Linked DNA regions of Homo sapiens: regions 1, 2, 3 and 5 are each reported to be linked to region 4. Evidence: microRNA targets listed by miRTarBase, many of them from high-throughput screens and not tested one by one. Region 4 holds a microRNA gene; each other region holds the end of a gene's coding sequence.
What was found. The annotated mature microRNA hsa-miR-4725-5p reads AGACCCUGCAGCCUUCCCACC and lies in region 4 at 3,349-3,369, opposite strand. An mRNA with a match to its seed (bases 2 to 7 or 8) in the 3' UTR can be bound and repressed. Matches are read on the target gene's strand: a 7mer-m8 pairs with bases 2 to 8, a 7mer-A1 pairs with bases 2 to 7 and ends in A, and an 8mer does both.

Region 1: miRTarBase lists FLG2 as a target of hsa-miR-4725-5p. Seed matches in the 3' UTR shown: 7mer-A1 at 4,193-4,199.
Region 2: miRTarBase lists NANOS1 as a target of hsa-miR-4725-5p. Seed matches in the 3' UTR shown: 7mer-m8 at 556-562.
Region 3: the mRNA of MCTS1 is a reported target of hsa-miR-4725-5p. Seed matches in the 3' UTR shown: 7mer-m8 at 3,992-3,998 and 7mer-m8 at 2,790-2,796.
Region 5: the mRNA of FBXO40 is a reported target of hsa-miR-4725-5p. Seed matches in the 3' UTR shown: 7mer-A1 at 3,566-3,572.

Annotation. Positions count from the first base shown.
Region 1 is chr1:152,345,864-152,350,968 of GRCh38, forward strand. It overlaps FLG2 (filaggrin 2), which reads right to left. Exons shown (of 3, transcript NM_001014342.3): 3 at 2,872-5,105. The coding sequence ends at 4,747. All of the region lies in intron 7 of CCDST (cervical cancer associated DHX9 suppressive transcript), which reads left to right. Among named protein-coding and RNA genes, the nearest start is that of FLG2, 12 kb to the right of the region's middle.
Region 2 is chr10:119,030,147-119,035,251 of GRCh38, forward strand. It overlaps NANOS1 (nanos C2HC-type zinc finger 1), which reads left to right. Exons shown (of 1, transcript NM_199461.4): 1 at 1-3,584. The coding sequence ends at 534. It overlaps EIF3A (eukaryotic translation initiation factor 3 subunit A), which reads right to left. Exons shown (of 22, transcript NM_003750.4): 22 at 3,524-5,105. Among named protein-coding and RNA genes, the nearest start is that of NANOS1, 3.0 kb to the left of the region's middle. RefSeq lists a silencer at 340-639.
Region 3 is chrX:120,611,842-120,616,946 of GRCh38, reverse strand. It overlaps MCTS1 (MCTS1 re-initiation and release factor), which reads right to left. Exons shown (of 6, transcript NM_014060.3): 6 at 1-4,764. The coding sequence ends at 4,683. Among named protein-coding and RNA genes, the nearest start is that of MCTS1, 10 kb to the right of the region's middle.
Region 4 is chr17:31,573,545-31,578,649 of GRCh38, reverse strand. MIR4725 (microRNA 4725) reads right to left here and starts at 3,381; the gene lies at 3,292-3,381. It overlaps MIR365BHG (MIR365B and MIR4725 host gene), which reads right to left. Exons shown (of 3, transcript NR_186556.1): 3 at 2,991-3,139. It overlaps MIR365B (microRNA 365b), which reads right to left and starts at 3,239; the gene lies at 3,129-3,239. RefSeq lists an enhancer at 4,665-5,105.
Region 5 is chr3:121,626,164-121,631,264 of GRCh38, reverse strand. FBXO40 (F-box protein 40) reads right to left here. Exons shown (of 4, transcript NM_016298.4): 4 at 970-4,570. The coding sequence ends at 4,355. Among named protein-coding and RNA genes, the nearest start is that of HCLS1, 32 kb to the left of the region's middle. RefSeq lists enhancers at 191-240, 281-430.

The DNA of each region.
Region 1 (5,105 bases), not on the chromosome of region 4:
AAAGCCAGAAACACATCTAAGTGATTTGGAACCAGAGGCTGTTCCTCCATTTCATCCTTTTCCTAATTACTGCACTTTATTTGTAGAAAGTAAGACAACATAAGATTTTTATTAATTGTACATTGTGGGGAAATGAAAAGAATAATATGAGACAACTTAACATATCTAAACAATCTTTAGAAAATGAACATGTTTTTCCTTGCAAATTTCATACTTCTTTGTGTTAGATGGCTTTATAATGCAAAAAATATACTTGTGAACTTCTACTGGTAATTCTATGCACTTTTAAGGAGAGTTTCACTCACTTTCACTTACCATGTTTTCCAAAGATTCAGTAAGATGTTGCTTAAAACCAGTTTCAAAGCCTGAGTTAGTGGCCTTTTAATTGTGTCAAATCATTATTAGAGAGGAAGCTTCTGTCTGCTCGCTTGATTAATTTCCAACCAAATCCAGAATTGCCTCAATCTTTACTTTTTAAAGATTTTCTACTTTTTCTTGCTCATTTCCCCACAGTTTACATACCCACCTTTGATTGTGTTAGAGTGCTCCACAAAGGTTGTACTCAGCATGTAGTATTAGAAAGTCTTCTCTGGTTATCAAGGACTCTTGGAACACAGGGACTATGTATTACACTCTAACAGAACAGCAAGTGCATGCAGTGTGTCTGCTACAAACTGACCTTCAATTTCCCTCATCCAAAGGTCATCTTTATCTAGAAAGTTTGTAAGAAGAGGAATTTTATCTTTCTTTCCTCCCATTTTGGCCACCCAGAGTTCCTCTTCAGTGCCATGTACTCTCCATGACAGTCTCAGCCATGGTTTGACATCACTGGGTATTTCTTGGCACAGAAATGCTTTACCTACAGGTTGCTAGCACACAGATGGTAGTAGAGGGGAAATATCTAACGGTATGTACCTATGACACTTCTCTTTCTAGCATCTAAGAAATTCAACTGTTCACAGAGGTTTCACATGGGGGCACCCCAGTTTTGAACTTTTTCTTTGTAGACCATACCTGATGTCTCATTTTTATCTTTCCTTTTATCTTAGAAGGGAGATGTGTAACTCTTTTTGAGTTATTTAATACTTCTGGTGTAATTTATAAGGAACAATTGCCCCCTATTTGATTAAAACATATTATTGAGAGTTTTAGCAATGTGGAATATATTACATTTAAATTTCAAATGGGTGTGGTTAAGGGATTATGGGGGTCATTTATGTACATAACCTATATATTTATATATACACATATACATATTTACACACACATACAATAAAGGCACATTAACGTTTATTCAGGATACCAGTGAAACTTTAGACATTTGTAAACGTATACTTAGAGAATAAAGCCTTTCTTTCTTGTAAATGCTTTAGACAGTGATTAGATTGAGGGAAAGATCAGATGTTGAGTTTTACCTTCTTTGGACTCATCATTAGTATCTGAGTGTTTCACCGCCGTCTAGCGGTAGAATATGGAATTACAGATGTATGGAATGAGTGCAGACGCCCTGACACGAGAGAGAGCTTTGGCTTGAGAATCAGAAACCTATACCTTGGTCATAGCAGCACTTCCAATTAGCAAGTTAATCTCTTCTATTGTAAATAAAGTAAATCCATAGATTTACTTTACTGCCATCTAGCTGTGCAGAGGTAGGATAAAAATCTATGGATTTCTCTTTTTATTATAGGTATAGACTTACTTTATCTATAATAGAAAGAGATTAAATATCAAATTTAAATTTCTAATTGTTCTTTGATAATTAGTATTTATATTCAGTGAATAAATGGTGATAGATAGATTGGTATGAATTGGTTACTAGCGTTAACTCCTATATACACAGTAATTTTGCTGAGTATCATTAATAGTATAACAGTAGCTTTTTCACTAGCAAACTAACAGACTAGTGTTATGTTGATTACATAGTACGATTTAAAGTTCATAAAGTACAAGTCCTTCTTAATATTACAATTTAAAAACTAGATTAGATAGATATATTCTGAGTCTAATCAGAAGAATGAGCCTGTTTGTTGTTGTTGTTGTTTTCATGTAACTTCTGCTTCTAATAGGGACTTGTGATTTTGAACACTCACTGATGAATTTCAGTTTAGTTTGAATTCCAAAAGTGAAGGTGGAGGAAAAGTAGCTTGATTTTTGAGTGAAAAGAGGATAAATTTGGATAGCACCAAATTTAATGGTGAGAATTATCACTCTTTTAATTAAATGCGGTGTGCTTGGCTTTTTTATTTTAACTTCCAAATTAAGGAAGTAATCTTTAAAGTTCTTACTAGTTCTGACAGTCTGCACATTTTCTTTGGGTTTTATAGTAGTAAACTTTCTACTGAGGATAGTGCATTTTGTACATAATTCTTCTACTCATCATTACTTCTCTCACTATTCATAATAAATTCATGTATTTTCTCCTTATAGGCAGGAATAATATATTTTTAACTGTTTTTCTTCTACTGGAAACCTCTGGACCCAATTAGCTTCTATTGATAGTGATTCTTCCATTAATATCTTTGACAGAGAAAATCCATGGTGTATAATTCTTATTTCCAGAGCTTGGGTTGTCTTAGAAAGTAGCTTCTTGGGATTATGTTTGATAATAATTGCTGTGATGATCATGATTAACCAGAACATCTGAGGTCAACTCATCAGTATAAAGCCTTTCTGTAAATGCTTTACAGAAGCATTGGACAGCGATTAGATTGAGGAAAAGATCAGATATGGTTGAGTTTTGTCTTCTTTGGAGTCCTTATTATTAGTACCTGAGTGCTTCACTGCCATCTAGCTGTGTGGAGGTGGAAGAAAACTGCATCTGATCCCATGGCAGGAAACTATGTGTTTGTGGAGATGAAAGAGAAGAGAAACTATAACTTGATGAAATGTTTATTGCCAATTTTTATGAAGTACAATTTTCTGGATCCTATATCCAGAAGGCCATGACAATAAATTTAAATATAATTGTACAGAATTCCAGTAGTGACACAAAAAGATGCAAATATTCTGAATATTCATGTGGGAAACTATGACAACATTCTTTGTTCAGGATGGGATGTGTTATAATGTTTCTAGAGACGTTTTGGCTCCTAAACCACGTCATTTAGCTCCTTGGATAGGTTTGTCAATAATTAATTAAAACAAAATCTGGAAAATCCAAATTTTGAAATTCGGAAATTTTTTTAAAACCTAATTTTATTCCCAACCACACAAATCTCTCTTTATTATATAGTTCTGAATATAGCCCCAAATGGTGTTTATCTTTTTCTTCCATTCACTATTTTCTTTCTTTCTTTTTTTCAAGGTGGAGTCTTGCTCAGTCACCCAGGCTGGAGTGCAGTGGTGCGATCTCGGCTCACTGCAACCTCTGCCTCCCGGGTTCAACCAATTCTCCTGCCTCAGCCTCCTGAGTAGCTAGGATTACAGGTGCCCGCTACTGCACCCAGCTAATTTTTGTATTTTTAGTAGAGACGGGATTTCACTATGTTGGCCAGGCTGGTCTCGAACTCCTGACTTCGTGATCCACCCATCTTGGCCTCCCAAAGTGCTGGGATTACAGGCGTGAGCCACCGCGCCCGGCCTCATTCACTATTTTCTAACCAAGGAGTTCAATGAATGTGGAGCCTTACAAAAACACCTGGCACCAAACAAAAGTAATATAGTACAGAACTATAGTTAAAATGAAAGAACAGACATATACCCTTACTACCAAAAGAGGAGATCATGTTAAATACCTTAATTTCATGTATGTGTCTCATTTCTTCTCTGGGTTAGTTCTTATCTTGGGCTAGTTTATGTTGGCTTCTTATTCAAAGTAATAACTCCTTTGTTCTTGGACATATTCATAGAGTGGGGTGTTGCTATCTAAGCAGAAGGAACCAGAGCCTGTTCTTTCCTTTGTATGGTAACCGCTGGCCTCAGAGCCTCTTTGTTTTTTGCCCACATCCTCACCGTATATTCTGATACCTCCTGACAGACTTGACTCTGACTCTTGCCTTTGTCTCCCCCACTGCATATGGTTGCACTGCTTGATGAATATCTATACCTATACTCTTCAATTCCTGCAGGGTCTTGGCTGTCAAGAAAGTGACTGAAAATGTATCTTTGACTTTTGCTGTCATTTGACTACTCATAACTATCATTTGATTGGCCATGGCTGTATACTTGTCTTTCATTGGTACTGAATCCAGACTGACCCTAGGCATCTCTTGATGGCCCATGACTTAATACCTATCTGGCAAAACCTGTGCTGGATCTTACCTGCCCATGAAAAGTTGTATCTCCGAAATGTTGCTGGCTAGATCCATGTATACCTATTGTATTGAACTCTAACTTCCCATGCCTAGATCCTAATTGCTCATGAGTGTCTTTCTCCCAATCTTCTGAATGCTTTTTGTTATCAGTATGGGATTCCTGTTTTCTGATTGAACTAGATTTTGAATGGCCATGAACTGATATGGATTGTCCATGGCCAAATCCAAGGTGGTCATTTGACTGGCTATGTGTACATCCCTCCCTTCTGGCTGTGTTATATCCAGGTTGAACATAGGTGTTGTTTGACTGTTTATGAGTTACTATAGAATGTCCATGACTAGATTCCTGACTTCTTATAATAATAGGTCGAGACTGATACTGAGAATCAACTGAATGTTCATAACTTACCATTGACTGTTCATGATTTAAACTGTGTCTTCCTGTTCTTTTAGTTGCTTTGGATACTATAAGGTCAGAACTAGAAAATAACTGTCAATGTCTAGACAGTTGCTTGTTTGCAGTGCTGTCTGTTGACCATGAAAGGTGAGAATTACTGATGCTTTTTCTGCTGCCACCAGAAGGCCCATACCCAGTGTGCCCATAGTCATATTCTGCAGGTCCATAGCTGCCATGTTTCCAAACCTGACTTGATCCATGCCTTTGCCTTTCACTACTATGTGACTGAAAATGACTTGCTCTACTAGATCTGGAACCTGTCTGTGTGGATTGTCCATAACCAGAATGGCCATGTCTAGTGGTATCTCCTGTCTGTCCATGAGTAGTTTCCAGTCTCCCATGAACTGTGGATCCTGGCTGTCTTTGTTGAGATCCAGCTTGGCCCTGAATGTGTC
Region 2 (5,105 bases), not on the chromosome of region 4:
CCGGGGTCCCGGGGCCGCTACCTGGGGAGCGCGCTGGAATTGCGCGCGCTGGAGCTGTGCGCGGGCCCCGCCGAGGCCGGGCTGCTGGAGGAGCGCTTCGCCGAGCTGAGCCCGTTCGCGGGTCGTGCCGCCGCCGTGCTGCTGGGCTGCGCGCCCGCCGCCGCCGCCGCCGCCACCACCACCAGCGAGGCGACGCCGCGCGAGGAGCGGGCCCCGGCGTGGGCGGCCGAGCCCCGGCTGCACGCGGCCTCCGGGGCGGCGGCCGCCCGGCTGCTGAAGCCCGAGCTGCAGGTGTGCGTGTTCTGCCGGAACAACAAGGAGGCGATGGCGCTCTACACCACCCATATCCTCAAGGGCCCCGACGGGCGAGTGCTGTGTCCCGTGCTGCGCCGCTACACGTGTCCCCTGTGCGGCGCCAGCGGCGACAACGCGCACACCATCAAGTACTGCCCGCTCTCCAAAGTGCCGCCGCCGCCCGCCCGCCCGCCGCCCCGCAGCGCCAGGGACGGCCCGCCTGGCAAGAAGCTGCGCTGAAGGCCCGGGCTCCCGGCCGCCCAGGGTCGCCGCCGCCCCTCGCACCGCTAGGTCTGCGCACCATCTCGCCCCCGCCGTGGGGAGGCGTGCGGCTCAGCGGTCGGCTCGACATGGGACGTCGTCCTGGTGGTTTTTGAAAAGCAGCCGACCGTGTGGAGTACTTCCGTGCTGAACGATTGGGACTAGACGCTGAAATCCCCATTTGTCTTCAGTTTCTAGTTTGCACATCCAGAACGGCGAAGGCTGGGTGTGTATTCCACTAACTGAAATATGGCAACTTAGAGGCGCTGTTTATTTACTGTATACGTCGACCTATTTTAGATGCGCATCAGTATGAAATTGTCTCAATCTTGGATGTTTCATTTTATGAATGGAGGCACTTTACTAGGTCTAGAATATTTTTTTAAAAGCCTCTGAACTGAGCTTAAAACTGGCGATTTTATGAAATGTCGGCAAAATGACTATTTTATTGTTTGAAGCGAGTTAATATTCTCAGTTGTCTTTAAAAATCAGTTACTCTAATTCCAGGTGAAGCAAGCCGCTGGTAGCATCACCCTTATGAGAAGTGAAGGTTTTGTAAACTTTCCAGTATTAATTTGGGCGGGTATTCCCCGCTTGTGGCTTGTTTCTGTCCTAGCTGGAGGTGTAAAATGCACAATGTGTAGCAGGTAGAATACAGCTCCTTATCGTTCTATGTACCAGGTATTTTATTACTGAACTAGCAACTAGCCTTTTCCACCTTTAAAAGTTGTGCCAAGTCATAATCATATTGTGTATAACTTGGAAATGGTGCTGTTTAAAAAAATTGTGTATTTATACAGTAACAGTATGAATTCATTAATCTCACCTGTAACTTTCCTACTTGGCATTTTCTCTACACACTCACCCTCTTCCAGTTCTTTAAAAACGTTTATGATATTAAGATCAAAGGGAGGAAGGGAAGACAGCAGTATTAATTCACCCTAGATTACTCAATTTCAGGGTTCCTAGTGGAGGAAAGCCCATTCCAGCTGTTGCCTGTCAAACAAATAGAAGATGGATCTCTAGCTCTGAGCTATTCGTGTATTAACTCGTATTCAAGAAGGTTCCACCGTGGGCTGCGTCTGACTTTAATACAGGCAGTGCTCAAACTAGAATAAGCACTAATTAAAGGAATTGTTGGGGGTCCTTCATGTGTTCCCACTCCTACTGGAAGACCCATGTCGGTTTCCGGAACCCCACCAGTTTACCCATAAGCAAGACTAAACCTGATCCTTGGGCAAAAGTTCCTAACCCCTACTTTACCCTCCCACCCTCACTTTTAAATCCACCATACTGAATGCCACACTATGGAATGCAGCTACCTGCCAAGCAAGGCAATAGAAGGCAAAAAATGGAAGTGAATTAAGATGAACTCATCTGAAATACACAAATGCATTACTATCTGAAGATACCAGCAAGAGTTTAGTCTACGTGTATAAGGCTCCCAGTAGGATTTAGCTAGGCTACTAGAAGTTAGACTGCTTTCGCATTAAACAGCTAACTTCATCCACAGCAAATTGACTCAATCAGGAACCTTCATTTGAAGGTGTGTTAGAGGATGGGGTAAATACCCGATAGCTGTCTTTTTGGTGAAAGAAAAGGTGCATTTCAAGAACTTGGGGGGCAGGAGGAAAGCACAATGTTTCTTAGCCAGGAAAGACAAATAATCCAACGCTGCTAGTCTTAACCCCAGACCAGAGAGAACTGCAGATCTGACTGGGCCTAAATTAAGTAGCTTAATGAAACCATGTAATTACTTGTTCTCCTTTCTTTTGCTATAGAAAATCTACCAGTTTAAATGAGCTTCACCTTCTGGGTGAAGTTTCTAAGGTCAACATGAATCCTCTTACCTCTCTCACTGCTCGTGTTCTGCCTTTTCAAAAGGACCACTATGAACAGATCAGCGCATTCTCTAGGCCAAAAGGGCTAGCCAGGTGGCAAGATCAATTTAGCTACTTTGTATTTTCAGAGTCAAATTACAGACGGTTTCCAAAGGTCTTGAGCATGGGGCTTTGGCATAGCCTCAATATATGGGAGTCACTGTGATGAGATGTGCCTAATGTTAATTTGATATTCTGACATTGCTATTTTACCAGAACTAAGAACATATTGAGCTGGAGCTTCTTGAGGGCAGGAGAGTATTGGAAAAGGAATCCAGAAGACCCTCTCCACTACTCAGGCAGCCACTATTCATCTATTTTTAAAGTACCCCATTTTCAGGCCGGGTGTGGTGGCTCATGCCTGTAATCCCAGCACTTTGGGAGGCGAGGCGGGGGTGGATCACAAGGTCAGGAGACCAGCCTGGCCAACATGGCGAAGCCCCGTCTCTACTAAAAATACAAAAATTAGCCGGGTGGTGTGGTGGGCGCCTGTAATCCCAGCTCCTCAGGAGGCTGAGGCAGGAGAATTGCTTGAAACCAGGAGGCGGAGGTTGCAGTGAGCCCAGATCACGCCACTGCACTCCAGCCTGAGCAACAGAGCGACTCTGTCTCCAAAAAAGAAAAAAAGTACCCCATGTTCAGCCCCTGTGCCAAATTTGCCTAGGTTTTCCAGCTGACAATGAATACTGGGAGTTAAAACGCAGAGTATTACTATAGTTAATTTTCTAGGGTTCTCTTATGAAAAGTATATGTAAACACATTCATTTAAAAATCCTTGGAACTCAATGTGGAACTTTAAACATTTTGCAAAATTACATTTAGAGAAACCCAATTTTTCAAAGTTTAAGAAATATACAAAGTATGACAAAATTATCTTCATAAGAACATGCTGCATACTTGCCTAGTAGCAAAACAATACAGGGAAGAGTCAAAAGGGCTTCTCCAACTGTAGAGGTACAGATTGTCTTAACCTGTTCTTTTCTGTACAGACTTAAAATTTCTAGTGGCTTTTATTTTTCTTTGTATTTTAATTTTCCTACAAAGTCCTTTTTGGAAGTTGCAGAATTATTAGCTTTGATGAGAACAACTTTTGTCATAGATTTGATTTATTAAACCAAAATTATACATATTAAAATTATATCACAAATATATATGCTTCCAGACAAAGAAAAGTTTGTTAGTCCTGATTTTCTAATCGTAGCCACTCAAGGAACAGTCCTTTCATAGTACCCCAAGTATTTCAATTAGACTTATAAAAGTATAAGTCAATCTATGGTCAGTGTCTTTGGTTAAAAAAAAAAAAAAACACAGGCAGTTCTTTACATAAAAACGTCCCACACGTTATAGATGCCAGCCACCTCCTGGTAGTCACTATGGACAACTAATGAGATGCAAAGTCTTTTGGACCGATGATGTCTCTACTACTGGATCTATCTGTATTAACAGCAATGTTACTCTCAATGAAACTGCAGAAGCCACCATGAACATGGAAGACCACCTAGCAGATCGGTGAGTAGGCTGCTTGTTCAGCTTTCCTTTAACACCTGTTGGTAAATACTAATGGGAGTAGACAGAGTTGTATGGCCTGGACAGTGGAAACCAAGAGCAGGATCGCAAAGTAACAGCATCAGACTCTTCTGCCCTCCTCTTGCACTTGGGTTCTGACTCCCAGAACAAAGAACTTGGGAGAACAGTACGGGAGACTGAGCAGAAAGGATGGGTTTGCTGACTCGCCTTGAAATCTAACTCTAACGTAGGCAGCAGTAACTCGTCTGAACAAATCTGATTAAATAAATTCTTGGGGCTTACCTGTGATGTCACACATACAGATCTACTCTCCAGGAAGCAAACTCTTAGCAAGTTACTGCCCCACTTGTAATCACTGATCTGAAATTCTCTTGTTATGAAAGAAAAGTCCTTCTCCCCACGAAAGACCTTTAAAGACTTCTACGTATTTGAAATACCAGATACTAAGGTGTTTAAAATGATTTCTATCATTGGTAACATCAAACAAAAATAGCTGCATCTGGTTAAGTTAAAAAGCATCAATACTCCCTCTTCTGGCCCTACAGCTGTACCAATAGGAATTCTCACCACTACTCAATAACAGAAATAAGTGCCTACAGCCATGATGAATTTGTAACATTTTCTCAAATTAACTACGATTTTTCTAATTTCAGGTGAAAACCCAAGGTGGTACTTCAAACACGCACATGCACACACAAACTCAGAGGACAGCGTTACAAGGAAACTAAGGAATTCCTGCATTAACAAAGGAAGACATGTTAGGGGGACATCCTAGCCACATATGCTTTCTTTGTTATATTTAGGTTCATTTTCATTGATACTAAACACAGACATTTAATGGCACTGATAAAAATTCAAGTAAAAAAAACTCAACTGAATATGCAAACTTACCATTATAAACAAAATACTATAACCACAAATCAACACTAAAACAAATTCTGTAAGTATTTTATTTATCACTGAAGAAAAAACACAGCAGCAAGTTCTGTGTTGGCTTCAATGAGACCAAATAGTTCATCTTTAACATAGCTACTGCGCTCCAAAATTGAAGTCAACACAGTCATTACTACAAATTACTTGTTGAAAGAATCTATCTTCAAAAGAAAGAAAATTAGGAAAGAGAATTTAAACGATTCCTCCAAA
Region 3 (5,105 bases), not on the chromosome of region 4:
CAGTTTTCACCTGTTAGTATTACTAGCTATGTTTGCTATATTTCACAAATACATTTCTAAAACAATCCATTAATTAGAATTGGACATTAATAGTGAGGCATGTCATTCTCTGTAACAACTAAGATTTTAAGTAGAAATTATTTCACTAATTCATCTTTTATTTCTCAAAGTATTCAAGGCTAAAATTTGGAGTTCTTTAATTTTCATTCTAAGAGGCAAGTATTAATTATACTAATGAGTTCAGATGTTTTTATTTATTTTTCCTCCCAATGACCTATTCTTAATGAACATGGTATTATTAAGAGACATTCCAGTGAATCATCTCCTGTATTTTTTTACATGCATAAATTATATTCCCTAAGGCCAGACTCTTAAACAGACAGATGAACCTAATAGTCTCAACAATGATTTAAAAACTGGCCCTCAATTTTCTTCATTCATTCCTGATCTCGTGGAGTTGTGGTCCTTTACTTGGTTTTAACACAGTATTCAACAAATTGTTGTTATAGTTGATAACATCTACTCATTCTTTTACCTGCCTTAAAAAGTGTAATAAAAGTATTCATACAAAGTATAAAATACATACAAGTATAAAAATGTATAATACATTTAATTTACATGCATCTCTACAATGACAAGTATGATTTCTTTAGAAACTGATGCATACATTTTCACTGTTTTTCTTTCATTATATATCAGTTTTAATGCATACTACTTAGAAATTAGAATCATTTTGAGTTTCTTGAAGAGCCTTGATAATTATAGTCTCAAAATTAAGGAACCTAGACAAACAAAGTTAAAATATTTATGACATTTTGCTTGGGCATACATTCATATTTCCATTAATATATAATTGCTACATTATTAATAAGTGACATATTTATTATAATGAAACACCTCCACGAATTTAGTGAATTGTAATTCTTATCTCTTCCTCTGAAGTATTATACTTAGAAATACGTATCTTCAGTTACTGATTTGGGTACGACAGGGAACCTGGCTGGATATCATTATTATTTGATATATGCCATATAACCTTCTGTTTGGGGAATATAAAATCCCTCAAATTGGAAATGTTCATGACTACCCATGGGATAAATCCAGCTGTTTTTGTTTGGGGTCCAGAGCATAAAAACAGAAAAGGAAAAATGCAGCTTCCCAACAGACCACTACCAAACCACCATAACAGACAGTCTGCTAGAAGAGAACTGATCAGGCCATTATGTCACCGGACAACAGGACAATCATCTGAGTTGGGATGCTGAATCACGGCAACTCCAAGACATCTGGGATTTTTTTTTTACCCTCACATTGGATACAATCTATGGAATATTACTACATTTAGTTCATTTGTAATTTACAATTTTTGATGACTAAAATTGGAAAAGGATTAGTACATTCCTACTGGCTTTACATATTAGTATTGGGCTGTCACCATTACCCAGATTATTTAAAATGTAAATTTTCTTTACTCACTAGATTGGAAGCTCCTTAAGAGCAAGGGCTACTTCTGTATTATTCATCTTCATGCCACGTCACTTAGAACCTAGTAGATACTCAATAAATACCTATTGAGCTGAACTGACCTTGTCTGAGTAAAAGTGAGTCCAATACACAAGTTACTAGATTGTAGGTTGGTTTGACACAAACTTAATTTTGAAACTAAAAATGAACTAAAGACACACTGCCTGAGAGAAGCAGGCTCTCTATCCCTGTATTCCTATTCTCACGAATATAGGTAAACTAAGTTTCCATTAAGCACAGTATCTAAAGATGCTGACACATCTGCTAGTTTAATCTCTTTGAATTGCCTTTCATGTATGACCTAATGTTTAGAAAATGACAAGGATCACACATGTAGAGTGACATCCCTGATTAACAGTGATGAGCAGAGGCCTCAGACCCAGGGGAAGCAGAGAACATACATATTTAGTCCATATCACCAAGGCAACACAGTGTACCTCAGCACAGTAGAAAAACAAGCACAGATGTTGATGTTGAATATTTAAAAAGTGTTCCTTACACCCACTGTAACAGTGGTTAGACACAAAGATGAATTATTTCAAAAACCAAGCTATTAAAAGTTTTTACTTCTCTAATGTATGTATATGTGTGCTTTGTTTTTCATTGCTAATACTCCATAGGCAGTCTTGGTCAAAAAACATTCTCTTAGCAACAAAAATAAAGGTTCAAAGTTTGATTCTGACATAAATGACTTGTATATTCTTTTTAAGAACATAAGGAGCTACAGGCCTCAAATAGGGTGCCTCCTCCCCCAAATAGGGAGACATCTGAATTTGAAGCCAGTAAGTCAGCAAAAAATTAAACTATCTGTTGAAGAAACCCCCCTGGGAGATGACTTACAAATGAGTTCCTGATGAGACTATTTATACTTTCGTGGACCAGGAATAAATAATATGGTAAGCTGCAGAATAAAACTGTCATAACATAAGGAAAACTACATGGAACTTGAAAAGGATATAGGAAATAAAATATCAGGGCACCTCTATGGGCTAGGAAAGAGATGAGATTTTGGCAGAGATAAGCATTCTAATTAATGATGAAGCAGGAAAAATTCTCCAAGTCTTACCTCAGCACAACTGAAATATTACCCCAATTTATCAATCTTCCTTTGCTCATACCTGTGTTTACCAAGTAACTTCCTGTTTCCTAATTGTTTACCATAGGCAGACCTATCACTATGAATTAATACATTTATATTCTAACTGGGGAATCTCCAAGTCTCTCAAGTTTCATCAGTGGGAAATGGTTTCTCAAGCTGAGGGTCAGACCCTGGATCTATGTCCACCTATGTTACATCCTGGGAGACCCAGCTGGAACAGCCAGCCAAATGATCTCTCTCTTTTTGCTATCCACCCTCACCTTTCTCACCAACTTCTAACTGTAACACAGGTCACCACAATCTTGTATATGTCTGTATCCATCTGAAAAATAAAATCACATGTCATATATTGGTAAACAACCAAATGAAGATGGCTAAGACACTAGAATAACAGCAAGGTTATTAGGAAGAAAAATGGTCTTTATCAATAAATAAATCCACAACTGCTCTTTTAACTCCCCAAACAGATTACTGTTCTTACTAAAGCAGGTCCATGTCCCTCATATTCCACTTATAGAAGATATACATTATTTAAGGAGTCTAGTGGGGACCCAAATCCAGATGTTCTGGGCATCTGTTTGGTATGACTTTACTCAAAAGAAGGCACTAAAAAAACTGAACCTGAATCTGATCAATCTTATTTGTTTACAGGATATACAGGAGGCATAAAAACAAGTTAATGACTTCACAGTGATACAATCAACAAAATCCAGAATATGTGTGGAAACTTTAAAGACAAAACAACTAGATTTCTTAAATAATTTAAGGGGGAAAAGAAAAGGTAACTTATAAATTAAACAGACTTCAATAAATAACAACCAAATGCAATGTATGAACCTTGTGTGGTACCTATTTCAAGCAAACCAACAGTTAAAGAGAATTAACAGTCTAGACAGTTGATCATATTAAGAAACAGTTCAACTTTTTAGGTGTGATAATGGTATTGTGGGGTTTTTCTAATTTTTAAAGATACACACTAAAGTAGTTATGACGCCAGGCATGGTGACTCATGCCTATAATCCCAGCACTTTGGGAGGCTGATCACTTGAGGCCAGGAGTTCAAGACCAGCCTGGCCAACTATAAAATATATAAAAATTAGCTGGGCACGGTGGCTCATGCCTGTAATCCCAGCACTTTGGGAGGCAGAGGGGGACGGATCACTTGAGGCCAAGAGTTCAAGACCAGTCTGGCCAACATAGCGAAACCCCATCTCTACCAAAAATACAAAATTAGCCGGGCATGGTGGCACGTGCCTGTAATCCCAGCTACTCAGGAGGCTGAGGCACAAGAATCGCTTGAACCCGGGAGGTGGAGGTTACAGTGAGCCAAGATCGTACCACTGCACTCCAGCCTGGGCAACAGAGCAAGACCCTGTTTCAAAAAAAAAAAAAAAAGAATAAAGTAGTTATGGATGAAATGATAGGATGTCTGGGATTTGCTTCAAAATAATTGGGGGGTGGGGAGAAATAATTGAGGTATAGATGAAATAAGACTGACCATAAACTGAAACTGGGTGATGGATATGGAGAGGTCCATTATACTATTCTCCAGACTTCTTAATATGTTTAGAATTTTCCATTGAAGTTTTTTTTAAAAAAACAATCAACAAAACACACACACACACACACACACACATACACACACACACACACACACACACACGAGAATGAGCACTGCTGGGTCCCCTGGAGTAATAGAATAAAATTCCTAGTCTAGTTTCTAGCCCCATTTAACTAGACAGTTTCTCTAGAGGTCTACCATAAAATGGCAATCCATTGACCAAGTCCTGCTCTTCACTCTTATATCATTAGCCTAAGAAAGGACATTAGTTGTATGAGTTTGCTTACTTACCAGATACCTTTTAATGTCCAAGTTTGCTACCCAATTTTAACTTGAGTTTAAGAAAACTTAAAATAATTTCTGAAGCTAACAGAATTTTAGCATCTGGTGAATTTATTCAGCATAACCACAGGCATTATCTTCATGCTGTCACACACAGACACAAACACAGATACAGCACAATATCCATATTTAGCCCAAGTGCATTCCTTCTGAGGCTCATTTATATGTCTTCATATGCCACAGCCCATCATTTAAATAATGGATATTTTCAATGCCAATTCCTTTGTTGACTTTCTCACTGTAGAAGGAAAAAAAACACATAAACATACTTTTATGCATTTTTATAGTCTTACTCGTGATAAATATAATTCAAAGTATATTGTTATTTTTTAATTATTAAGCCACAAGTAAAGAACTTATTGACATCACAATTACATTGTTGTTTATATTAAACTACATTACTCTGTGGCAGCTCATATCTAAAAGTGATTTTAGTGATCTAACTAGTGGGTCTATAGAACCAGAGTAACAATGTCACAAGACTAGGGGAATATCAAAGTGCTACATTAACCCTGAAACAAAATTAATACCACTAATTTGGTCATCAAATGGGTTCTAAAATTTTTAAATATACTGCCT
Region 4 (5,105 bases):
GTAATCCCAGCTACTCAGGAGGCTGAGGCAGGGGAATCACTTGAACCTGGGAGGCGGAGGTTGCAGTGAGCCGAGATCATGCCACTGTGCCACTGTACTCCAACCTGGGTGACAGAGTGAGACTCCATCTCAAAAAAAAAGAAAAAACCAAAAAAGTTGATGTATTATCTTTTGCAAATGTTTTGTGGTAAAGAATGAAGAACTGGCCAGGTGCAGTGGCTCACACCTATAATCCCAACATTTTGGGAGGCTAAGGCAGGAGGATTGCTTGGGCCCAGGAGTTTGAGACCAGCTTGGGCAACATGGCAAAACCCTGTCCCTACAATAAATGCAAAAATTAGCCAGGCATGGTGGTGTGCGCCTGTAGTCCCAGCTACTCGGGAGGCTGAGGTGGGAGGATCGCTTGAGCCCAGGAGGTAGAGGTTGCAGTGAGCCTGGTTCAGGCCACTGCACTCCAGCCTGGGTGGCAGAGTTAAGATTCTATGTCAAGAAGGAAAAAAAAAAGAATGAGGAACACATGTAAGAACAAGGAGGTTCAGGGGAATGAAGGGCAGGAGAAAGGGGCCCCATGGGAGGGGATGGTTGAGGGGAGCAAATGGCAGGGAAGCTGATCGGGGATGAAGGAACCTTTGCAACACCCCTGTCCGTTGGAGGTTGCGAGAATAGCATTTCATGGGAGCCCCACCTATCCCTTACCAAGAAAGGATAAATGCCATCATGTTTAAACTTTACCTTGGAGCTGTCCTTGCCCTGTGCAGAAAAAAGCCAAGGCTCCTGAGCAAACCCAGCTCCTTCAAAACTGTCTCTGGGAGAGCTCATGTGGAGGTAGTCACAGTAGCACCGGCCAGTGCCCACTGGAGCCAGGGCTGGGCTGCAGGGAAGATCGTGGCAGTTGGACTTCTGCAAATGCTGAGCACACGTGGTCATCTCCTCCAGTGACGAGAGCTTTTGAGCTGCACCTAGAGACCCTGGAAATACCTCAAGGGTAAACTTCCCCTGCTGACCCATGAGGGCAGTAAGACATAGAGTGGACCCACTGGGGCATGCAGAGTCCTGCTTGTCACTTTGTCCATCTCCCCACCTGTCCTTCACTGCAAGCCACCAGCCCAGTCTCCCCTGGAGAGCAGGATTCTGTTGCTTCGGGTTTGGTGGACTGGCATTGTTGGGGAAGGCAGGCATATCACAAATTGATTTAACAAAGTATTTCTGGCCAGGCGCAGTGGCTCATGCCTGTAATCCAGCACTTTGGGAGGCCGAGGCAGGTGGATCACCTGAGGTCAGGAGTTTGAGACCCAGCCTGGCCAACATGGTGAAACCTCATCTCTACTGAAAATACAAAAATTAGCCGGGCATGGTGGTGGGTGCCTGTAAATCCCAGCTACTTGGGAGGCTGAGGTGGGAGGATCCCTTGAGTCCTGGAGGTCAAGGCTATAGTGAGCTGTGATGAAGCTACTGCACTCCAGGCTGGGTAACAGAGTGAGACTGTGTCTCAAAAAAATAAAAAATAAAAAAATAGGTCTCAGAAAAATCGGATTCAGCCGAGCGCAGTGGCTCATGCCTGTAATCCCAGCACTTTGGGAGGCCGAGGCAGGTGGATCATGAGGTCAGGTGTTCGAGACCAGCCTGGCCAACACAGTGAAACCCCGTCTCTACTAAAAATACAAAAAATTAGCTGGGCATAGTGGCAGACGCCTGTAATCCCAGCTACTTGGGAGGTTGAGGCAGGAGAATCGTTTGACCTGGGATGTGGAGGTTGCAGTGAGCTGAGATCGCGCCACTGCACTCCAGCCCAGACGACAGTGCAAGACTCCATCTCAAAACAAATAAAAATAATAATAATAATTTAAAAAAAGGTATTTCTGCTTCTCGACAATCCCCCAGGACCTCCAAAAGCCTTGGCTGGTCAAAATAGAGTCATGTGTCACTTAACAACGGGGATCCATCCTGAGAAAGGCATTGTTAGGTGATTTTGTTATTGTGCCAACCTCACAGAGTGTGCTTACATAAACCTAGATGGTGAATAGCCTGCTGCACACCTAGGCTAGGTGGGGGAGCCCATTGCTCCTAGGCTACACATCTGTACAGCACGTTCCTATCCTGAATGCTGTAGACAATTAGAACACAATGGCAAGCGTTTGTGTACCTAACCAGAAAAGGCACAGTAAAAACAGTGTTATAATCTTATGAGACCACTGTCCTACATGCGGTCCCTCGTTGACCAAAACATCGTTAGGCAGTGCATGACTGTATCTGCAGGGTGGGGCTGGATAGGGCAGGGGTAGGGAGACCTGCTGAGAATGGAGGAGATCCATGAAGTGAAATAAGGATGGAGGACTTTCAGTCAAGGAAAAGCAAGCTCCAGGGTCACAGTAGAGGGGGAAAGACCCTCAATTCACTGTTCTATTTTCAAAATGGCTAGTTCACTGGGTCTCAGACAGACAGTGGATTCTGAGGCTCCTTCTATTTTATTTTATTTATTTTTTGAGACAAGGTCTCACTGTGTTGCCCAGGCTGGAGTGCAGTGGTGCAATCTTGGCTCACTGCAACCTGCAACTCCTGGGCTCAAGCAATTCTCATGCCTCAGCCTCCCGAGTAGCTGGGACTACAGGCACACACCACCACACCCGGCTAACTTTTGTATTTTTAGCAGAGATGGGGTTCTGCCATGTTGGCCAGGCTGCCTTCTATTTTAAAATACAATGCAAGTTCCTGCGCAGATAGATGCCTCCTCTACTCCTGCCTCAACTTCTCAGGAAAGGTTGGGGGGCATCTTGTCCAGCCCAACTCTGTTGCCTCTAACATCACTGACCCGGAAGATGACCTTCCTTGGGCACTGCACGTGCAGCTAGGCTCTTCCAGGCCTTCACTGCACACAAACCAGGGAGTTCCTGCACCCTCCTGGGCTCCAACCTGCACAGGAATATCTTGATGTCCAGCCCTCCCGACCCTCAGCCACTCCAATCCTCCACCAGAAGAGAAGATGCTAAAAATGCACGCAAACAAAATTGTTTTAATAATCAGCAAATCCCCATTCACTCTTATTTTGGACGTACATTCCAATCTGACCCCAGGAAGTCCCGGTCCTCCCAGAAGGGCCAGGTGGGTGAGAGGCAGGTTGCTGGCCGCTGCCCGATGCACACTGCAAGAACAATAAGGATTTTTAGGGGCATTATGACTGAGTCAGAAAACACAGCTGCCCCTGAAAGTCCCTCATTTTTCTTGCTGTCCTTGAACACTCTCCAGGTGAGGAAGCAGTCGTCTGCCACGCCCAGATGAGCCGAGGTGAAGCTGGTGTTCCCTCACCCGACACTGACGCCTTCCCCACAGCCCATGGAAAGCTCCCTGGTGGGTGGGAAGGCTGCAGGGTCTCCAGAGAGACACAATTTTCTCCGATGCCGGGCCCAGCTGCGGCCAGCCTCGCCGCCCTCCCAAGGCATACCCAGGAATGACCTGGGTTCCACCTAAAGCCAACTCAGAACCCAGCGCCTTCTGCCTGCAGGAAACTGCAGACCAGCATCCTGGTGGAATCCCAATGTGGAGAGCAGCCCCCAAAACTCGGGAACGTGGCAAGAACTATACTATAGTCTGTAGCCCCTGTGTTCACAGGAGGGGCGTGGACCATCTCAGAGAGACAATGATGGTCTCAGGCCTGGCGTGACACATGAACACAAGACAGCCAGCCTCCAACCTTCTTGTAACCAGGCCTGAGGCCAGGCCTGATTCAGGCAAAGAGAAGAAAACACCAGGAAGTGCCCAGAAGAGCAACCCAGGCCTGAAAACCCGGGAGAAGAGCTGCCCCGACTCTCTCCAGCCCATCTTAAAGAACGGCACACAGACAGGAGATTCCAACAGGAATGGGCACGGGAACTCCGGTTCCGCTTCTCTCCAGCAGTCGCGGCCTTGGTTACTCTGCCTGTAAAATGGGCCTGGAAGGAGCTAAGCTCCCACCACCCTCTCTCCCATTTCAAAGGGAAAGCCAAAGAGGAAATGAGACTTTCAGCTCTGTCACAGAAAGCAAAGGGGCTGGAAGAGGCTGCAACCTGTGAGAAACAGCACGCCCTGGGGTGCTGCTGAATGGATCTCAGGCCCGCCCACCAATTCTCGGCCATATCCCACCCTGCCCTTAGCAAAAGAGCAACAGCTTCACATTGGCCTGAGTGGGAAGGCAGGTCCTCCCAATACCCTTCTATGAAAACGGCCTACAATGGGCAACAAAGACAAGTGTGAAGACCTCTGGAATGTCCTAGGTGGTTTCTGGGTTCAAATCAACAAGCCCACAGGCTCTGCTGGGAAGCACAGGCTGAAAGAAACCAAGGTTGGGTGAAGGAGATGGTGAGACAGTGGCCAAAAAGAAGGGAAGAGACTGGTGGCCAATTTGTTTTTTGTATGGGAGGATAAAAAACAAGAGCTTCCAGAATCAGAGACTCGTAGAGGATTCTCCTTAATGGGACAATCCCTTCTGTCCCGAGGCCCAGGTGAGCCTCCAGGGCAGTAGAGGGTCAACCCCAGCGTCAGGGCATCAGGGCCCAGACCAGGAAGGCCCCTAGGGAATGAGGTCCTGCATGTGCCTCCCACCTGTGGAATGTCACCCAGCAACAGGAAACGTGTCTCCTGAGGCCAGGCCACTTTGCCCAAGGCCCCGGCACAGCTGGAATCTGTCCAGCCTGGCACTGCACCTGCTCTTTGGGGGCCCCACTGTCCATGCAGGAACCTGGCCTGTCAGGACACAGGTTGCCACCGCTGTGGTGAAAACACATCCCCACAAAAGACAGCCAGCTGCTGGCACCACTACCTGCTAACTTGCTGTATGACCTGACCCTGTGTAAATTACTCGGCTTCCCAGCCTCAGCTCTCTTATCTGTAATAGGAATAATAAGCCCACCTGGAAGGGCAATGTAAGGATCGAAAGAAAGCAAAGTGTGTAGCAGGCTCCTAACAAAAGTGGATCCCCTCAGACCCCAAGGGCAGGGGCTGGGCCATAGCGAATTCTTCCCCTCTGGGAAGGGGGCTGGGTCAGGGTGCCAGCCCGTGCCTCGCTGCACCCTGGGCACTGACACTGCATCTTCTCCCCAACACTCCACGCTCCTTCCAGTTCAGACTGTGAG
Region 5 (5,101 bases), not on the chromosome of region 4:
CTAGGCCTTTTCCTTAGGCTGAACTTTTTTTTTTTTTGAGAAGGAGTTTTGCTCTGTCACCCAGGCTGGGGTGCCGCAGTGTGATCTCAGCTCACTGCAGCCTCCACTTCCTGGGTTCAAGAGATTCTCCTGCCTCAGCCTCCCGAGTACCTGCAACTACAGGCGTGCACCACCATGCCCGGCTAATTTTTGTATTTTTAGTAGAGATGGGGTTTCCCCATGTTGGCCAGGCTGATCTTGAACTCCTGACCTCAGATGATCGCCCCCCGCTTAGCCTCCCAAAGTGCTGGGATGACAGGCATAAGCCACTGCACCTGGCCTCCTTAGGCTGCATTTTAAACCCAGTCCAAAACAGATCAGCCTGAGCAATGGCTGGGCATGGTATTGTGGGCCTATAGCACCAGCTACTCAGTAGTCTGAGGTGAGAGAATCACCTGAGCCTGGGAAGTCAAAGTAAAGGCTTCAGTGAGCTGTGATCACACCACTGCACTCCAGCCTGGGCGACAGAGTGAGAAGCTGTCTCAAAAAAAAAAAAAAAAAAGAAGAAAGAAAGAAAAGATGGAGAAGGCACTGGGATCAAGGAGGAGCTAGAATGGTTGCTAAGACCCACAGTTAGTTGCTCCAGGGCTTCATAGAGTTGGTGAGCTGCCCAGCAGGGTGTCCAAGGGAGAGAATTCAGCCATGGGTTCATAGTTTCTGTTTCTGGTTGGGCCAGTAAAGCCCCTTTGTCATTCCTCTGTTCTGCTTATCACTAGAGACAGAAACTAAAAACCATGGCTTCAGGCTGCTAAAAGCCTAAAACAAAACAAAACAGAACAACAACACAATAAGGCAGGTTGGACAAGTTTGGTCTCAGGCTTGTGCTCTGGTCTTTCTTCATGATACACACTTGGTTTCAGCGACAACTTCTATGCCTGTGAATCACACATCTGTCTCTAGACCTAACTTATAAGATTCACCCAATTAGCCTTTCAGAGTGCAAAGCAGCTTTTATTTCCTCTTCTAGAGATGTTGAGGTTTCTAGTATACAGAGGTCAGTCACCACAGATATACTCAATCTCATTCTTCATTTCAGTTTGATTTGACATCACACATAAATCAGACTTTTATAGTGATTTTCGTGACGTATCTTCAAGTTCCACCTTGCTTTTCACTTTTTCCTTTGTTGTGAGATAGAAACTTCTTTTCCAGACCCTTATGCTACTAAGGCAGTAAGGTCCTCTCTGGCCCAGTTCTACAGACCTCAGCCTCCATATTCGGCTGATCTCTACTCTGGACTGCCTTTCTTGGTGATGATACTCACCAAGGGCTCTGCCCATAGACATCCTCCCTCCCTGTGTACACAGTCCGTCTTTGCTCCCCTCAGCTGTTTCTAAATCTGAAGCCACTTCTAGCTGTCTTGCCTCTGTCAGGTAACACTCGCTGTTCATGCTGTTCACTCCAGCTTCCTCTCACAAATCATTTCTGTCTAATCCATAGTCTCTCTGAAAGGCTTTGGTACCGCTGCCCTCTCACTATGAAGTGTGCTTGTCTTATTGAAGCTCGTGCTTCAGTACGGCTCTGAAGGCAGCAACTGGAGGGGGAGAGTGCGGCTGGAAGTGCACAACCCACAAAGCAGTTGTGGGCAGTGCCACTCTCCTGAACCAAGGCTTCCCCAGCTCACCCAGTTTGGGAAGGGAAAGCCTTCTGCCCTCTTCCTTTCTCTATGTAGCACCTTATTTCTCCTCCATCTGTCGATAGCCCCTGATTTTCATCTCCATTGGTCTATAGTTTCCCTTTCTATTTCTATTAAAATCACAAACCCAGAGTGGACTTTAGGAGCTTTTATCCTCCATGTAGGAAGGACTAGATTCAAAACACGTCGAACTACCACCTGGACAACTCTCTTCCTTCCTTCCCACTGCAGTGTTAGCTTCTTTCCAGTTACTCATCTTCACAGAATAAAACCTTAGGTCACACCCTAGTCATATTTTTAGAAAATGGTGCCTTATATACAAATATGAAATACAAACCAAAGGATGGGATTAGGAAAAATAGAGTGACATTACCAAATAGTACCGAGTGGCACATTACGATGAAAAGATGAGCATGTTTCTGGTCTGGGACTTGCTCTACTGCCTTCTAGACTCTTTTCAGAGGTTTCACCTACTTCATCTACACCAGCTCTGAGCCATGTTTAGAGAGAACCCAGGAAATAAAAGCACCCAGATTGACTAGATTGTTTCTTTTGTTGGCTAAATTCTTTATCCTCTGCTTCCCTACAATGCCTGTCCTTTTCTTTTCCGATTTCCCACTTGCTTGAGGACTGCTAGGACTGCTGGGAAAATGACACCAATTACAGTGAGAGGAATATAAACACAAGGCTAATAACTCAACGCTCCTGGCTTCAGGTATAACCAAAGAGAGCTGAAAGGATACATTCTTGGGGGTGGCTGAAGGACATGAAGCCATACCAAACGAATCATTTCCTTCTGGTTCCCAACTTAAAATCACCACATGTCTAAAACCTATTTCATAAATAAAGAGCTGCATTAAATCATAACTATTGTGGATAGCTATGTGCGATAAGATTTTGCTGTACTAAAAAATAAGCATATCCTAACTTATTGTCACTAGTATGACATCCTTTAGGGATTTTCAACGGGGAGCCATTTTGCTCCCCAATATTTAGCAATGTCTGGTGACATTTTTGATTGTTGCCACTGTGGGGGTGCTACTGACATTTAATGGATAGGCCAAGGATGCTGCCAAGTATCCTGTAGTACACAGAACAGTCCCTTGCAACAAAGAATTATCCAGTTCAGGCAGGGCGCAGTGGCTCACACCTGTAAACCCAGCACTTTGGAAGGCCAAGGCGGGCGAGTCACCTGAGGTCGGGAGTTTGAGACCAGCCTGAACAACATGGAGAAAGCCCGTCTCTACTAAAAATACAAAATTAGCCAGGCGAGTAATCCCAGCTACTCGGGAGGCTGAGGCAGGAGAATCGCTTGAACCCAGGAGGCGGAGGTTGCGGTGAGCCGAGATCATGTCATTGCGCTCCAGCCTGGGCAACAAGAGTGAACTCCATCCCCTCCCCACCTAGAAAAAAAAAAAAAGAATTATCCATTTAAAAATGTCAATAGTTCCAAGGCTAAGAAGCCCTGCTTTAGGGGATGCCAGTTTCTACTGTGTCTTTTTTTCTTTTACTTTTGTTCTTATGAATATTCACTGTTTGTTACCAAAAACAGCAGTATCATCCATTTTTGTCAGACTGAAAGCATGACCAGAAATATGGATGGGTAGGAGCAATTTCAGGGAGCCGTTATGTTCACATGTCTTCCTCTCCAAGACCCCAATGGGGTACCCAAGTGCTGTCTAGGAGCTGGTGACTGGCGCCATAGGAACTGCAGTGGGCCTTGTCTGGACTTTGCCAAAGGTGTGATCTCCCTGGGCTGCCCTGTGCATTCTGGCATGACGCTGAGGTTGGCATTAGTGTATTGAGGTCATTTCAGATAGCACAGGGTGGCCCAGGGCCATGGCTATGTTCTGCCTAACTCAGAACATAATTTTCAGAAGAAAAAAATCTTGACCCTTAAGTCATTATTAAAATGTTACAAAGTAAGTTGGTGACTTTTTGTCCTAATGTTCTCCATAAATATGGTGTCTCCTTTGGACTCCCGATTTATCAAGGCTTTCCTGCTGTATGTTGCCAAGATTCTAGCAACAGACTCTGTGATCCCATTTCTGCCCCTCATGTTTTGGCCTGTGGTGTCTTCAAGGCTGCCATGCTCAGCCAGGGGCTCTCCTATGTCAGGCTGTGTTAGGACTACCCTGGCCTAGAGGCAGTAGAATAACCAAAATGAGCCCTGGACTTGACCGTCAAAACAGACCCAGCTCCAGAGCCTCCAGCTTTGTTCCCTTCACCCTGCGTTCCCTGGGGAGTCCCATCCTGCATTTCCTGTCCCATAAATTTGAAAGTGCTTTGTGAACTAAAAAGCCCATGTAAAAGCACAGGCCTGTACTGGTTATGGAATTTCGTGCTCTCTCATCACTTAAGAAATTGGGCCCATCTTCCAAATGGCCTCAAATTACTTATTTTCTTCTCAGACCAATCTATTTTAGAAAGAAAGAAAAAAGAAAAGAAAAGAAAAGAAAAAAGGAAACAAGTCATCAATGTGGCACTATGGTACAAGACATGGCTTAGGAAATTCTTAGGCCTCGTGTTGAGGTTTCGAAGGACATTGCGTGTTCCAATACACCCCGATAAGCAAATAGGCAGTTTACAGAAGGGAGTCCTCAAAACCACACACTCTGTCCTACTTCAGGAACTCCGAGAAGAAATCCAAGAAGGGTGCATCGAGTGGCATCTGAATTTTTAGGAGACGTATCTTCCTCGTGGTCTGATTCTAAAGGTGGAGACTAAGCTCTCTCGGGCCTGCTCACGGGGCTGACACATGCTAGTCAAAAGAATCGGGTCAGTTTTGTGCTCTACAATGTTGAAAGGACAGGACTTCAGGTGCTCAGACATGGAGGTGACTTCATTAAACTCCCAGCTCTTGATTTTGGAGAAGAGGCTGCTGAACTGCCAGATCTGTTGAGAAAGATAGAAGTTCAAAGGTGAATATAGGGGTGTTACCCTCTGGCTGGCTTTATTTGGGCACTATAAGGAAATATCCTCCTGTTCTTCATATTCTTAGACTCCAGAGTGTTTAGTGGCTCCTGCAGACATTTGGTAGCCCCTCCTCCAGCATCCAATTCCTAGTTCCCCCTGCCAACCAATAATCTTCCCAACCAGCCCTGTAGTTGTGAGAATCACTAACACCAATCAGCATATTGACACACACTCTCCCTTGCTCCTCCACCAGCAAGTGATTAATTTTAAAGTAGATGCACAGTTCAAATCAGAACAATTAGTACCAGTGCAACTCTTATTCCAGAACTTTTGTTGGAGATACCAAAAAGCAGATTCTCTTTTTCTTTCTCTACTTGAACTGCAAAGCTGAAGTCCTAGGAGGTGCCAGCAATCACCAGAGACCACCGAGTGAGCACTATCTTACAATGTAGCCATTATTGAGGAAGTAGAGGTAAAAAATAGAAAGAAGAGATGTCATTTGGGGGCATT